2 separate regions of the Homo sapiens genome follow, and region 1 is linked to region 2. The links come from fine-mapping of genetic effects on gene expression. Tissue or cell type: subcutaneous fat. Region 2 holds a variant in brackets; the other region holds the start of a gene. All regions are shown on one strand. Distances are from middle to middle.

Region 1 (8,000 bases), 19 kb before region 2:
TGCTCAGGACAGTCACCTGAGTGGGAGATTAGAGTTAAGCCTTAGGGCAAGGTTTAGGGGACAGTGGGAAGCGTTAAGATTTGGTTTTGTGTTTGAGCCAAACCTGGGGCCGCATCCTCATCTTTTTCCACTCTGCTTCTCTTCTTCCTCCACGCCACACCTATCTGGCTCCCATCTCTCAAACGGGCCCGGCTTGCTGCCATCTGGGGGCCTCTGCCCCAGGTGCTTGCCCCTGTGCACGCAATGAGCTATCTCCTTATTTTGGCCTCGCCACAAAAGACACCTCCTCCAGGAGGCCTCCCCTGATCACCTCAAGTCTGTCCTCCTGACCGCCCACCAACTTCTCTCCTCCCTAATTGTCCTCTTATTTTCTTCATTGCTCACACTGCTCTTGGAAATAGGACCTTGAGGGGTCAGTTCCACGGGGACAGGGGCTGTCTCCTTACTGTTCTCCGGCCGGGCTCTCAAAGCCCTGAACAGTGCCCGGTGCTGAAGACCCTTGATGAGCTCTGGAGGTTGACGGCAAATCATTTCTCCTTCAGTAAAACAGGGGCAGTCATACCCTCCAGGCAGGGCTGAGACTTAGGCTGCATGGACCAAGAGGGTTCGCTGGTTGTTCAAATATTGGAATACTTCCCTGCTTCTCTAACGGCCCCACCTGACACGGCTTGGCCTCTCACCTGAGACCCTCTTGGTTTGTTTTTTGAGACTGAGTTTCGCTCTGTCACCCAGGCTGGAGTGCAATAACGTGATCTCGGCTCACTGCAACCTCTGGAGGCCTCCCGAGTTCAAGTGATTCTCGTGCCTCAGCCTCCCGAGTAGCTGGGATTACAGGCGCGCACCACCATGCCTGGCTAATTTTTGTATTTTTAGTAGAGATGGGGTTTCACCATGTTGGCCAGGCTGGTCTCGAACTCCCGACCTCAAGTGATCCTCCCGCCTCGGCCTCACAAAGTGCTGGGATTACAGGTGCGAGCCACCATGCCCGGCCGAGACCCTCTTGTAATGAAAGGGTTAACTCAGGGCTCATCAGGGGCCTGCTCTCACCTGTGCCCACCAGGTACCACCATCCCTAGGAGTTGGTACCGCATGGTTGCAGGATTGATGCCACGCTTGTGAGGTGCTGGGCACAGCATCTGGCCTGTGGGAGACCAGGAGGAACCGCGGGCTGCCACCATGTGATTCTGTTTTGCTGGTATCACCATCGGTCCTGGCCTACTCTGTGCTGGACCCTGGTGCACACACACATTCACTGGTCCAGTCTCACGAACTAGACTTGAGCGGCGCCAGGGGCGGGTGAAACCCGAAGCACCACAGCCACCTGCCACTCCCTGGCCCTCGCCCAGCCCCTTCTCAGTTTCCCCTCTCGGCAGCTCTCAGGGCTCAGCACCCACCAGCGCCCACCCAAAACCGCCTCTTCCGAACCCATCTGTGACCTGGCTTCTCTCGGGAACCCTGGCTCATTATAGATGTGTCTGGCCCACTTTCCTTCCAGCTTCCAACCCTGACTCTCCCCAGGCTCTGCCTGCAGGGGTACAGCCACACTTTCCCTCCCTGGGGCTCTCCGAGGAGAAGGGGAAGAGGGAGAGTCTGTCCCGGGTCCCCTGGCACTGAAAGAAGGAACCTTCATCTTTCTTCTCTCTCTCCTGAGTCCTCAGTTATTAGTCAGCGTTTTGGGGGATAACAAGGCAGGGGTGAAACTTCTGTGCTAATTTTAACATCTGGAAGGATCTTCAGTGTCCTGGACAGGGGCCACCCCTCCTTCTGGGTTTCTCCGCCCCTGATTCCCGATGTCCCCCTTCCTTGGGGCCCAAGCTTTTGGGGTAGTGGACCGGGGAGGTAGAGGGGAGGGTCACGGTGACCTCCCAGAGGCCTCTGCATCTGCCCTCCCCCTCCCTGCACCCAAGATGCAGCTCAGCTTCACAGCTCTAAATGCGTCCCCAGCACCCGCTGCCAACACCTGGGGGAGGTGAGAGGAGAGTGAGTAGGGAGGCTGCAGGCTGTGCCCTCTGCCCCTCCCAGGTGCCTCCACCTGCCAAGTCTGGACCAGGGACGAAAGCTAGGAACTGACCCATTCTCCATCTCCCTCAGGGTACCCCCAGCCCAAGACTGCATTCAAACCCCATCCTGGCTCCTCCAAGAGCTCAGTGGTCTCTTCTGGAAAATGGGTTTGAAGGTTCTTCTCTTCATGAGGTGGAGGGGCGGACGAAGCGGGCATACAGCGGAGTTCAAGAAAGGCCCTCTGTCCCCTCCCCCACTCTGTCTACTCCCCGGGCTCTTGCCACCCAGTCTTGGGCCCTCAAAGCTCCAGCTCCCCAGCTTCTCTCCTCTCCCCCGAGATCTTTCTCCTCCCCCCTCCCCCCGACGGGTCCTTCCCTCCCTCTTCCATCCTCTCATCTCTGTCCCACTTAGATCCTCCTGCCTCTTCCGGGTCCTGCCAGCTTCCCCTGCTCTTCCTGACAACGCACACCGCACCCCCCATTCTTCTCCCCACAGCCCCCGCCGCCCTCCAGGCCCCTCTGTCCCCTGCAGCCCTCAAAGTTAGGCCTTCCCTACCTCCTCTTTCCCCTCACTTCCCTGCCCCTGGGCCTCTCCTGCCCATCTCTCTACCCATCTCCCCCTCCACTCCTCCTCTCCCTCCTTTCCTCTTCCTCTACCCACTCCCCCTGCCCCCCGCCCTCCCCTCCCCTTCATCCAGGACCTTATTGCAGGAGTTACCCCCTCCTCTCCCCTCCCCTCCCACACCCTCTCCCCTTTCCCTCCTCTCTCCCCTGCTCCTCCCCTTTTTCTCCCCCTCTTCTTTCTTCCACCCCCTTCCCACTTCCTTCCTTCTTTCCTCCCCTTCCCTCTTCTTTCCTCCCCCCCTTCCCCTTCCCTCCCGTCTCCCTCTCCTTTCTTCCCTCCCTCTCCCATCCTCTCCGGTTCTTCCCCCCTCTTTCCTTCCTCCCTCTCCACGCTGCCCTCCCTCCCCTCCCTCTCTCCCCCCTTCCTCTCCTCCCGGGCCTCCCTCCCTGCTCCCTCCCTCCGCCCGCCCGCTCCCACCATCATCAGTATTCCGCTCCCGTCTCCGCCGCTCTCGGCTGCTCTCGGTCGCTGCCGCACCGTCCGAGGCGGGGGCCGGGGCCGGGGCCGGGGCCTGGGGGGGGGTGGGGTGGGGGGAGAGCGGCGCCGGCGGGCCCGAGGAGGGAGGAAGGAAGGAAGGAAGGCTGGAAGGAAGGAAGCCAGGAAAGAAAGAAGGAAAGAAAGGAAGGCAAGAAGGAAGGCGGGCGGCGGGCGAGGGCGCGGGGCCGGACGGCAGGCGGGCGCGAGGCGAGGAGGCAGAGCGGCCCCCCCAGCCCCACCGCCGCCGCTGCGGAAGCCCCCTCCCCACCCAGGAGCCGGGGAGGGGGGAGAGCGCGAGAGGCTCCAGGCCCGGCCGCAGCCCCGCCCCCCGCGCCTCCCCGCAGCGGGCCTTGCACCCCAAATTCCTGAGCCTCATTGGGGGGGTCCTCCCCCCACGGGCCGGGCATGCTGCCCCCCGGAAGGAACCCCTCTCCTCGCTGTGAGTAGCCGCCAAGGGGCACGGGTCGGGGGCGGGGGCCGGAGGCGGAACCGCGGGGGGTGGGTGGGGGGCATTCGCTAATTGGGGGACAGTGGTCTTAGGCCTCCTCCGGGATGGGGGGGGATGGCAGAGGACAGGGGGCGGGGCCTAATGGGAGGCAGAAGCCGGTGGGGGAGGCGACTGGGTGGGGGTTCTCCGGGCAGGGCGAGTTCTGTGCTGTGGGGGGGGTGGTTGTCGCCGCTGCCTGGGGACAGGTTGTGGGGGGTGCGTCCGGCGGTCGCTGCGTATCCAGCTGTGGGGCTGAGGAAGTAGGCTTAGGGTGGGGGGCTCTCCGGGCGTAGGTCCGGGCCCCCCTTTCTGGGGCGGGAGTCCAGGTTCTTCCTCTCCCCATGGCCCCTCCCACCCTCCACACCGCTGCTGCTTGGGGTGGGGGGGGCACGCCAGTGATGGGGAGGGGGGAGAGGCGGGCACGGGGTTTCCTTGGTGACCGCGCCTGGCAAGAGCGGTTGCCGTGGCAACCGGGGAGAACCGGGGAGTTTGGGAAGTGAAAATGGGAAAGACGGAGGGGGTGATTGGGGAGTGAGACAACCCCCTCCCCAGTCTTCAGCCCTTCTCCCTCTGGGGTCACCCCGCCTCTCCTGGTGGGCGGCTCGGACCCCTGCCCCTCCGTCTCTCCAAGACCCCCGTTCCCTGACCCCACTAGGCTTTGGGGCCTTCTATCCTTGGGCACGTGTCTCTCCAGGACCACTGCCTCTCCCACCTCCCTCCGCCCTCCCCTCCTGGAAACCTCTCCTCCTGGAGACCCCCGCCCCCCATTTGCTGCCTCCTCCCCAGGCTTCCGACCCTCACACCTGCTCTTCTAGGACCTTCTAAGACACGGCATCTGCTCCTCAGCCTTCTCTAACCCCCATCTCTGACAATCCCCCAGATATCCCTCTCCAGACCTTCTGTCCAGGAGACCCTCACTTCAGCCGCCCTCTCCTCTAGCTCCCTCCTCCCACTCCCTCCCCGCCCCTCTTTGGGCCTTGCACCCCAGCCTCTCCCCTTTCTCCCCAACACCCCCAGTCGCCTTCTCCTTAGCCCATCACTCTCTGAAACATCCTTCTATGACCTTTCATCACCCAGAGACCCCCTCCATCGTTGTCTCCTCACCCCATAGTACTCCCCAGTCTCAGACCCCCCCAATCCTAGCTCTCTCCTTTTGGGAGCCTCTCCTTCCAACTCACCATCAATCCCGGGCTCTCAGGGTTCCCCCCATCTCTATGCCCCTGCCTCCCTGGGGTCCTGTCCTGCCAGGGGCCCAGCCAGTCTCTCTCCAGGACTCGAGTCTCCAGAGCCCAGGATGGCCTCTTGCCCACCCCTCCACCCCTTCGCCTCCTCTCTGCACCCCCATCTCCTTCCCCAGACCTCCTCACCTCTGCTCTCCTCCTAGGCGCCCTCCCCTCCTCCCTGCCCCCTCCCCGCAGCCTCTGGTGACTTTCTGTCGGGGTGGGGAATTCCCCTGGGGAGAGCCCAGCTGGGAAGGGGGAGGGGGAAGGGAGCCTCGGGGCTGCCCCTCGGCCCCCTCCCCGCCCCCCTCTCCAGCTGGGAGCTGCAGTGGCGCCTCCGCAGCGCCCCATTGCTATGCGCCTCACATCCCAAGTCCCGGCCGCGCAGCCGCCAGACAGGAACTCGGGCTCCAGGCAGCTGGGAGTAGCCGGAGCCGGCTTCCCTCCTGGTCCAGGAGCCTGAAAACTCCCGCCCCCCACCCCCGGACCGCGGCCAGGACCGCACCTCCCTCTTCCTGTAGCATCTTCCGCAGCCTTCGCCTTCTAACCTGCCTTTCCGCAGCCTCCACTTCGCCTTCCCACCTTCCTCCTCCTCCTCCTCCCTGGGGCTCCTCTCCTCCTGGCCACCGGATTGTCCAAACGCACACAGAGAAATGAGGGACAGAGAGTGAAGCCGCCGAAAGGCGGGGAGAGAGACCCAAGGAAGGGAAGAGTGGGAGCCAGGGAGGGAGGCACAGAGGGAGAGAAGGGACCCAGCCTCCGAAACACACATACAGGCAATTAGGGCATCAGCACGGAGTCACGGAGTTACTCACTTAATTTCCGAAAGAAAGAGTCGGGGAGCCGGGGACACACGCCACTCCCACCCAGAGAGCAGACACGCGGGTGAGGCAGAGACGCAGGGAGCCACAGACTCAGGGAGGGTGGGACAGACCCGCGGGGTGCCTGCTGGGGCCAGCAGGGAGCCGGGGGACACTGGCCACCAGAGTTCTGGGGGATTAGAGGCCGCTTCTGACTTGTCAGAGGGACCCCAAGTCAGCAAGTCAGCGACAGAGAGTGGGAGCGTGCGAGGAAGACACGGGGCACGTGGAGGCAAAGATTCCCCTGGCAGGTACACACACACACACACACACACACACACACACACACGAGAGCACACAGTCATTCACTGGCAGCCAGAGACCCCGATATGGAACCAGAGAGGCCCAGTTGCAGACGCAGCCCCCACACTCAGTCAGCCAGTGGTCAGGAGAGACAGGGAGCAGTCCCCAGACCTGTAGTCGTGTGTCACACAGAGACACACACAGTCCTTCGTACACAGACCTGGAGGGAGAGACAAAGGCAGGAGGCCCTTGCCTTGTGGTCCTGTGGCCTCGTGGCCTCACGCCTACGGACAGACACAAGGCAAAAGGCACGGAGGTGGCCCCAGAGCTACAGAGATGCAGCCCCAGGTGCCGCTAAGACAGTCACAGAGCTGTGCACTGTGGCGCACACACCAAACCGAGTGCCAGCGTCGGAGGCACGTGTGTGCACTGCAGGGAGGGCCAGCCCCATCCAGCAGTCACCCTTAATCCCACTCAGAGACAGCCCTGAGAGTGTTCCTCTCGCCACGGGGCTCCTCAGGGACCTCCTCGCCGTCCGAGAGGTCAGCAGAATTAAGACATCAGGTATCAGAGGGCGCTGGCATCTCTCACAAGCAGAGCCTGTGCACACATGTGCCTGCACACACACCCTCAGGGCCCATGCAGAGAGGCCGATCTTCAGGCAGAGGTGCTGTGGGTTGGGGATTGGGGGCGGGGGTGGCCGCTGAATCCTCAGTCCCTTCCGGAACCCTGGCCCTGCTTTCTTGCCAGGGTCCCCACCCCCTCAATCACCTGTCTCACCTGCTAGGACACCTGCTGTGTAGCTCACACTGGTTCTCTCTCTCCATCCTCTCTCCCTGCATTTCATCCCTTCTCACCCCACTCTCTCTGGCCGGGCATCTGTCTCGAGGTGTCACCTGGACCTCCTGTCTCTGTCAAGCCGTCTCGCCTCTCCATCTCCCCTCATCTTCCCTGGGACTGACCCTTTGCCCTCCCAGCCCCCAATGTCTTGCTGACCTGGCCCATCCGTCTAGTCTGTGGACTCATTCATCAGTCTTTCCCTCTCCCACCCCATCTGCTGTGAAACCTGCCTCTATTTCTGTCTCTGCTCGACACCGCTCTCTGTGCCTCCCTTCTTTGTCCCTCTGTGTCACTCGCCCTCACCTCTGCTGCTGTTCCTGCCAGCCTGTCTGCCTCCCCGCCTCCCCTGCTCCTTCCCCGTGGCTCCCTCTCCCCACATCCCTGAGGACTCACTTACCTGGGGTCCTCCGGGCGGCCCAAGAGGGTTATTTTCCCCCAGTGCTTTCAACATGTTTAATTTGTTGCCAACATTTTTTAAATTAGAGATTTTGCATAAAAATCTAGACTGTCAGCTTTTGGAATCGTCTTCCCCCTGGATAACTGTGGGTTGTGCTCAGGTGCAAAGGGCCACCACTCCCCACTCTCCCCTCTAACCAGCATCGGGATCATCTTCCCTGCTGGGCTCCATAGACAGAGGAGTTTGCAACCTCTGCTGTTTGCTCCTCTTCCTCTCTGCTCCATCTCTTTGTGCCCTGTCACCCTCTCCACTCTCCTTCCCTTGGTTTCCCTTGCCGGGTCCTCTCTCTGCCCCTCCTCCTTCATCCCCCCATCAGTTTGCCCTAACTCCAAGCCTCACTTTGACTGGGCCCTGTTTCCACTTAAATGGCCTCCTTCCCTTGCCGAGAGCAGGAAGAGTCTTATCCTTCTCTGGGAGAAGTGGTTCTTAAGACTGCCAGGACGCAGAGCACACGCCCATTCTCCAGGACCAGGATCTGCTGTGAAACTGCCAGCCCCTCACAGTGTTGGAAAGTCAGCGTTGCGTGAAGGCACCATGTTGCAGCCTGTCCTTCTCAGCTGGCTGATGGCTGGGGTGGGCCACAGACCCCACACTCTTGTCCCCAGCATGTGGCATCACAGCCCGTAGGCAGGGGGTGGGCTTCTCTGTACACCAGGCTGCACATTTGGCCCCAGAGCAGGTGGAGAGCAGGGGCTGCCTTAGAGGACCTGGGATGCGGACGCTGTTTCTGGAGGGAGGGCCTCACCTCCAGATAGGGGTGCAAAGGACAGGGCTCCCCTCTGTGCCTGGCA
Region 2 (8,000 bases):
TCCTCCCCCGCTTCCCCCGACCTTCCTCGGCTGCCTCCTCGGCTGCCCAGAACCAATGGGTTAATTAGATAACGGAGCCTTTGATTAGCGGGGGAGGGGGAGGCCTCCCCCAGGCGGCGCAGGGAAGGGAGGCTGAGGAGGAGGGAGGAGAGGCGCCCTCCCCGTTCAGAAGGAGAGAAAGAAGGAGGGAGGGGTGGGGAGGGAGGGAGCTGAGGCACAGCTTGGCTCTGCACTGCCGTGTGACTAGAAATTGTAATCGCGGAGAAAGAGAGAGACAGACAGAGCCGGGGAGAAAGGGACCAAGACAGACGGACAGACAGACAACCTGACTGAGACGGGCTCAGGGCCGATGAGAGGGTGACAGGGATAGAGCAAGAGGGAGGAATAGATGGAGGAGAAGGAGAGAAGGGGCCTGGGGGTCCCGAGGGAGGCAAGATTGTGAGGGGGGAGACTCAGGAGGGGGTTGAGGCCAGAGGAGGTGGACGGGGACCAGAGGCGGAGGGGGAGGACCGAGAGGGGCAGAGAGAGAGTTAAGGGGGCTGGGGTCGGTGGGTGGAGAGAAAGGAGGCTGCGGTCGGGGGAGAGTCGAGGTAGAGGTGGGAGAGGGGGTGGAAGGAGACCGGAGGAGGCGAGCGGGGAGGGGAGCAGAGAACTGCTGCAGTGGCCAAAGGACAGCCCCCCCCAGGGGTGGGAAGGGCGACAGGCCAGTGGGGGGGGCGCGGGGAGACCCAAGAAGCCCCTGCGCCCCCCCCAGCACGATCTCGACAGGAAGCCCTGGAGAACTGGGGAGGCAGAGACCCCGGCTGGCCGGAGGCATGTGGAGGGGGGGGCCTGGGCGCAGGGAGAGGCCCAGCGGAAGCCAAGCCACCAGGGTGAGTGTCCCCCACCGTGGGGTTGTGGGGAGAAAAGGATGGGAGATGGCGGAGGGCGGCGGGGGGAAGGGGAGGGAGGCCGAGTCGCTGCAGAAGCCGTGATGGGGGTGGGGGGATGCGGGCTGGCAGCGGGAGAGCTGGGGACAGATGCGGAGGTAGACATGGCAGCGGCAGGCCTGGAGGCCGGGGTGGGTGCCGTGGGCTCCCACAGGCCCTGCGGGGTCCCCCGGCCTCAAATCCAGGCCCTGCGCTTTGGGCCAGCCCTTTGGCTAAGAGGGTGTGGGCTGGATCATCGCCAGGGTCTTAAGAGGTAGGAGCCCCTGACCCAGGATAAGGACTGGGCATTGACCTCCCTGTTCACATTCAGGAAAATGAAGACCCTCACCGCACTCACATAGTCAGACACAGACACACGGCCCCAGCCCTGCAGGAGAAAAATGAGCCCGGGTGGACACAGAATCAACCTCTCTCTCTTTCTCTCCCCAGCTCCCTCTTTCCCCTGCCCTCTGTCTCTCTGCCTCTGCTTCTGTCTCTGTCTCTCTGTGTCTCTGTCTAGCCCTCGCTCTCACACATGCACTCAGATACACAGACGTATGCACACACATTTTTATCTGGGTTAAAATGGTCTTGGAAACTGCAGGAGGAGGGAGTGACTGTGTGTGTGCATAGCCGTGTGCCTGGGGGTGAGCCTGTGTCGGGGGTCCTGAGAGTCCACCGTGAGAGGGGGGTCCTGAGAGTCCACCGTGAGAGGGTGTGCCCCATCACTGCTGAGTGTGTGAGTGGGTCGGTGTGCGTGTTTGTGTGACCTGCCCTCCTCCTGGTCTCTTGGGAATGGTTTGGGGTTGGCCTGTGTTGGGGCAGGGCCTGCTGGTGTGGGTGTATTTGTGTGTACTCAGAGATGCTGCGTGCAAAGGAGAGCTGGGAGCCAGAGGGTAGACCCAGGGCCGAAGTACCCCCTCTGCGCCCTCCCGGCCTGCTCTGTGCCCTTGGACAGGCCGTTTTCCCTCATAGTGCCTCAGTGTCCCCATCTGTAAATTGGGCATCCTAATAGCTTTCTCCTATGGTCATTATGAGGCTCACATGAGATGACCGGGATACAGTTTGCTGCATTGCAAGGGCTCACCCAGTGTTCCGGAGAGACTATTGTTACTGGTATCGTTGCTGTGACTCACCCATCCCCTTTCCCTCTCTGGTTCCATGGAAATGGCGGGGCAGGACAGATTGGGGAGGTACAGCGTGACTTCTCAGAGGGCCCGAGTCCCCGCTGTCTGCTTTCCTCCCAGAACCCAGGCAGAGTCCCTGGACCCCCTTCCCTTCCCCATCCCCTCCCCGAGAACCAAGCTCGGTCCTGCGGCAGCAGCTGGCATGAGTCCCATCGGGGCTGTCTCTGCCTGGAGCACCCACAGTCTCGGGGCAAAGGAGGGGGTGCAGCTGGTGGCCTCTCGGCCTGTGCCGCCCCCCGTCAGGTCCCCAGCCACCCTCACACACAAGCTCCAGTCTCCTCCCTCTTCACCCTGCTGCCTCCCAGCCCTCCCTTCACCTGCCCACACCTGTCACCTCCACGGTTGCCTTGTCTGCCACCTTACCTCTCTCTCCCTCAGATTCTCCCATGAGTCTGACTCAAGTCTCTGAAGCTGCTGTGAGGCCCCCACAGGGCCTGGACAGGGTGGGCAGTGACAGGAGGGTGTGCAGCGGAGGGTCTTTCGGTTTAGCTGAGGGCACAGGGGGTGGGGGAAATGCATCTCTTCGCTAACATCCCTGGGATGGGGAGAGGGGGAGGGAGTGGAGGGGAGAGGAGGCTGGGACCCACCTCCCAGGTGATCACGCAGGTGGCAAGGGGACCGGGCGGGTGTTGGGATGGGAGCGAGGTCCTCGCCACCTCGCTTGCTCTTCCCCGTTTCTGCCCCCTCGCCTTGTCTGTCTGTCTGTCTGTCTCACTCCTCTGATGTATCTACCTTTTTGAAGTCATGCAAAGAACTGGGTTTTGAATCTGGACAACTTCTGCACTTACTGGATGAGTGACCTTGGGCAGGCACTTCCTCTCCCCCAGCCTCAGTTTTCCCTGCTGCAGAATGGGCGTAGAATCTTGCCAGCATGGAGAGGATGAGCTAGTGCAGGGCCAGGCGGGCCAAGCTTCCCTCTGCCTGCCCCAGCCTGCTGGGTGGGTCCATCGGCAGCTGTCTCCCTCCCTGTCCCTTTGTTCTGGGCATGGGGCAGGGAGGCGGCGATGGGGCTGCCTGGGTGTTGGCAAGCACCCAGGCCACATGGGCTCCTGTCCCTCACCAAGCCTCTCCCCCTTCTCTCCCCCACCCACAGCCCCCCAGCGTCCACGCGGAGCATGAACATTGAGGATGGCGCGTGCCCGCGGCTCCCCGTGCCCCCCGCTGCCGCCCGGTAGGATGTCCTGGCCCCACGGGGCATTGCTCTTCCTCTGGCTCTTCTCCCCACCCCTGGGGGCCGGTGGAGGTGGAGTGGCCGTGACGTCTGCCGCCGGAGGGGGCTCCCCGCCGGCCACCTCCTGCCCCGTGGCCTGCTCCTGCAGCAACCAGGCCAGCCGGGTGATCTGCACACGGAGAGACCTGGCCGAGGTCCCAGCCAGCATCCCGGTCAACACGCGGTACCTGAACCTGCAAGAGAACGGCATCCAGGTATGCGGGGCCAGCGGGCAGAGGGGGACCTTGGAGGGGACACTGGGGAGGCATGCAGATGTAGCCCATCCCTTCTGGGCCTCCCCACACCGGGGCTTCCCCGTCTCCGGCACCTGTGGATGTGGCCTGCGGGTCTGCATCCTATCAGCTGGAGCCGGGCTCCCGAGGTGGAGTGGAGGCCCTCCGGGCTTTGAGAGCACAGTGCTCCCTGTCTCTGAGCCACCGTGTCGGGGCCCAAGTGCAGGCCACCTGCCCAGCCCCCCCGGCACAGGACAGGCGGGTCGGCCTAGGCCGAGCCCTGGAGTCCCTGGGGTGTGGAGAGCAACCCTTTCACAGGGACCCCTGTGGCATCTGCACCACCACACCCTCTCGTGGCCTTGGGAAGGTGACGGCATGATTCTGAGCCTCAGTTTCTTCATCTGAAAAGCGGGGACAATGCAAGCCCCTGCGTTGAGGTGTTGCTGTGAGGGCTGATGGGTCTGGTACTTATTGGGGCGTTAGCTTGTGTGCTGGCACCTGGCGAGTGGTCAGAGGACAGGAGGCGTTTCCATGGTCATTTGCCGGGCAGTGCAGGGTTTGCGTCCCCATTTCCTGGAGCTGGTGTGAGAATTGGAGAGCAGAGAGGCTGAGAACGCTGTGGTGCTTGGCGCCATGGTGGCCTGTGGCTGGTGCTCAGGATGGGGCAGCTGCCACTCAATTAATGATGACTCTGATTAGGATAGGCCGTAAGCGAGGGCTTGGGGGGACAGAGCTGTGCTATTAGAAAGCAGGGCTTCTCAACCTCTGCCCTATTGACATTTGGGGCCTGCCCTATCATCCTTTGGCGGGCAGGGTGGGGGGCTCTGTCCTGTGTGCTGTAGGATGTTTACCAGCATTTCCGGCCACTAGATGCCAGTAGCACCCCACCCCCAGTTCCAAAAATATCTCCAGGCATTGCCAGTGATTCCCAGGGGATCATTACCCCAGGCTGATTTGGTCCAACTCCTGCCTCCAAGCAAGCCTCCTCCTGTTCCAGCCTGTAAAGCTGGGAGAGAAGAGGGTGCCGATGCCAGAGGTCCCAGCCCCTCCAGATCTAATCTTCCAGATGTAACAGCTCCCGTAAGAAATGCGGCTGCTTTTCTGCCTGGTCTGTCCCTGGGAAAGGGTGGGAGGACTTGGCTGCTCCCATCTGACCATCCTGAGAGCCAGATTCAGGGAAGAAAAGGGACCTCTCAGGG[GA/A]GCAGTCCCTTCCTGGTGGCTGTGGGGCAAGGGCCAGCGAAGGGGTCCAGAAACGTCAGGGGCGTCGTCACATCACCACCCCCCGCTCCCGCAGGGCCTTGTCCCTCTGTCCACGCCCACCTCCCACAGGCTCCCATGTCTGCCAGTTTGCTTTGAGTCTGCCCTGCATCTCCCTAGTTGCAGTCTCCACCGATCCATCCACATCTCCCTTGAGCAGGTGACATTCCGCACTGTGCGGTCCCCATGCACCTGCCCCCGGCTTCCCTGCACTCCATCCTTCCCCCACTTATACACGTGACGTTCAACAGACACCGGCAGCACCGGCTCTGCACCAAGCCCTGTCCTGGGTGGTGACCGAGCCAGGCAAAGCCCAGCCCTAGCCCCGGCAGCTCACATTCTAGTGGGGAAGAAATGAGGAGGAAAAGGAGCCAGTGGCTGGGACGGCACGCCAGGGAAACGCGCTTTGCAGAAATGGCCAGGGAGAGCGTGGGACAGGGAGGCACCCACGCCACTCACCAGCAGCCCCAGGCCGTGGCAACATCCCCGTCGTAGAACCTGGACCCGTTTCTCTTTGTGGGGGGGCGAGGGGGCTCAGTGAACAATTCAGTCCCACAAACGTGCTGAGCGCCACCAGCGGACGTACATTCATTTATGATAAGTCATGCACAGGCCCGCTCCCTCCGTATATCATGCACCTGGTAAAGCACACACCCAAGGTGGACATTGTCAAAGGGTGAAAAGCATCAATAGGGATCCAGACGCCTCTATTTCTCATCCTCCCCACCCAGGGGTTCTTGCACCGCCCCCTGCCCCACCCAGAGACATGGATGGAGGGTGTGTTCGTCCAGTCCACGAGAGTGGATGCTTGTGAGTGTTTGTCAGTGGGCTTGGCCTCCCTCAGTGGACACATCCCAGACAGCAAGAGGCATGGACCACGTCGAGGGTAATCAGAGGCTCTTTATTTTTGTATTTATTTATTTATTTATTTTGAGACAGAGTCTCGCTCTGTCTCCCAGGCTGGAGTGCAGTGGCGCAACGTTGGCTCATTGTAACCTCCACCTCCCGGGTTCAAGCGAGTCTTCCGCCTCAGTCTCTTGAGTAGCTGGGATTACAGGCGCCTGCTGCCACGCTCAGCAAATTTTTATATTTTTAGTAGAGACGAGGTTTCACCAGGTTGGCCAGGCTGGTCTCGAACTCCTGACCTCAGGTGATCCACCCGCCTCGGCCTCCCAAAGTGCTGGGATTACAGGCGTGAGCCACCACGCCTGGCCCAGAGGCTCTTTAAAAAGTAATAACTTTTAGCCTGGCGCGGTGACTCATGCCTGTAATCCCAGCACTTTGGGAGACTGAGGCAGGTGGATTGCTTGAGCCCAGGAGTTCAAGACCAGCCTGAGCCACACAGCAAATCCCCATCTCCACTAAAAAACCAAAAATTAGCCAGGTATGGTGGCATGAGCCTGTGGTCCCAGCTACTTAAGAGGCTGAGGTGGGAGGCTTGCTTGAGACCAGGAGGCAGAGGTTGCAGTGAGCTGAGATTTCACCACTGCACTCCATCCTGGGCAACAGAGAGACCCTGTCTTAAAAAAAAAAAAAAAAAAAAAAGTAATAACTCTTTAGTTATCCAAATAAAAAATTGAAAAAATCACCCTAGTTCCATCACCAGATATAAATAACTACTGTTTACATTTTGTTCTAATGCCTTCCTGGCTCTTTCCTGTCTCTATGTAAATGGTTTCATTTTTAGAGACAGGGTCTCACTCTGTCATTCAGGCTGGAGTGCAGTGGGACTATCATGGCTCCCTGCAGCCTTAACTTCCCTGGCTCAAGTGATCCTCCTGCCTCAGCCTCCAGAGTAGCTGGGACTACTGGGAGACACCATCACACCCAGCTAATTCTTTTTTTTTTTTTTTTTTTTGAGATGGAGTTTCACTCTTGTTACCCAGGCTGGAGTGCAATGGCGTGATCTCGGCTCACCGCAACCTCCACCTCCTGGGTTCAAGTGATTCTCCTGCCTCAGCCTTCTTGAGTAGCTGGGATTACAGGCATGTGCCACCACGCCCGGCTAATTTTGTATTTTTAGTAGAGACAGGGTTTCTCCATGTTGGTCAGGCTAGACTCGAACTCCCGACCTCAGATGATCTGCCCGCCTCGGACTCCCAAAGTGCCAGGATTACAGGCGTGAGCCACCAAGCCTGACCTTTTTTTTTTTTTGAGATGGAGTCTTCGCTCTGTTGCCCAGGCTGGAGTGCAGTGGTACGATCTTGGCTCACTGCAAGCTCCGCCTCCTGGGTTCACACCATTCTCCCGCCTCAGCCTCCTGAGTAGCTGGGATTACAGGCGCCACCCACCACGTCCGGCTAATTTTTTGTATTTTTAGTAGAGACAGGGTTTCACCGTGTTAGCCAGGATGGTCTCGATTTTTTTTCTTTTTTATGAAGACAGGGTCTCACTATGTTTCCCAGGCTGGTCTTGAACTCCTGGACCCAAGCAATTCACCCACCTTGGCCTCCCAAAGTGCTGGGATTACAGGTATAAACCACCTAACCCAGCCATAAGTGTATTTTTAATTACTTATTACAGAATGAATATAAATTAATTGAGAAAAACTAGAAAATATACCTAAGTAAAAACAGGAAGACAGAAGCCAACCATAATCCCACAGCCATGGGTAGCTCTCCTTCGCTTTGGTGTCTTTGCATTCGGACACCCTCCCCACCCATGCACAGTGTGTTGCACAATTGCTGCTGATTTGTAAATGGAGTTTTAGCTTTTTTATTTTTTTATTTTTATTTATATTTTTATTTATTTTTTTTTTTTGAGACGGAGTCTCGCTCTGTCGCCCAGGCTGGAGTGCAGTGGCGTGATCTCGGCTCACTGCAAGCTCCGCCTCCCGGGTTCACGCCATTCTCCTGCCTCAGCCTCCCAAGTAGCTGGGACTACAGGTGCCCGCCACCACACCCAGCTAATTTTTTTGTATTTTTAGTAGAGATGAGGTTTCACTGTGTTAGCCAGGATGGTCTTGATCTCCTGACTTCGTGATCTGCCCGCCTCGGCCTCCCAAAGTGCTGGGATTACAGGCATGAGCCACTGCGCCCGGCCTATTTTTTATTTTTTTTGAGATGGAGTTTTGCTTTTGTTGCCCAAGCTGGAGTGCAATGGTGCAATCTCAGCTCACTGCAACCTCTGCCTCCCGCGTTCAAGCAATTCTACCGCCTCAGCCTCCCAAGTAGCTGGGATTACAGGCGCACACCACCACGCCCAG

The links. PIP is the estimated chance that this variant, and not a neighbour inherited with it, causes the effect.
Region 1: LRRC4B starts here. The variant in region 2 is fine-mapped to the expression of LRRC4B in subcutaneous fat (GTEx, PIP above 0.99). The same link has a PIP of 0.9 or more in thyroid and visceral fat.

Annotation. Positions count from the first base shown.
Region 1 is chr19:50,563,485-50,571,484 of GRCh38, reverse strand. LRRC4B (leucine rich repeat containing 4B) reads left to right here and starts at 3,050. Exons shown (of 3, transcript NM_001080457.2): 1 at 3,050-3,541.
Region 2 is chr19:50,544,062-50,552,061 of GRCh38, reverse strand. LRRC4B (leucine rich repeat containing 4B) reads left to right here. Exons shown (of 3, transcript NM_001080457.2): 2 at 3,189-3,520. The coding sequence starts at 3,224. Among named protein-coding and RNA genes, the nearest start is that of LRRC4B, 20 kb to the left of the region's middle. RefSeq lists an enhancer at 1-300. The variant GA/A (reference allele first, on the strand shown) is at 4,738.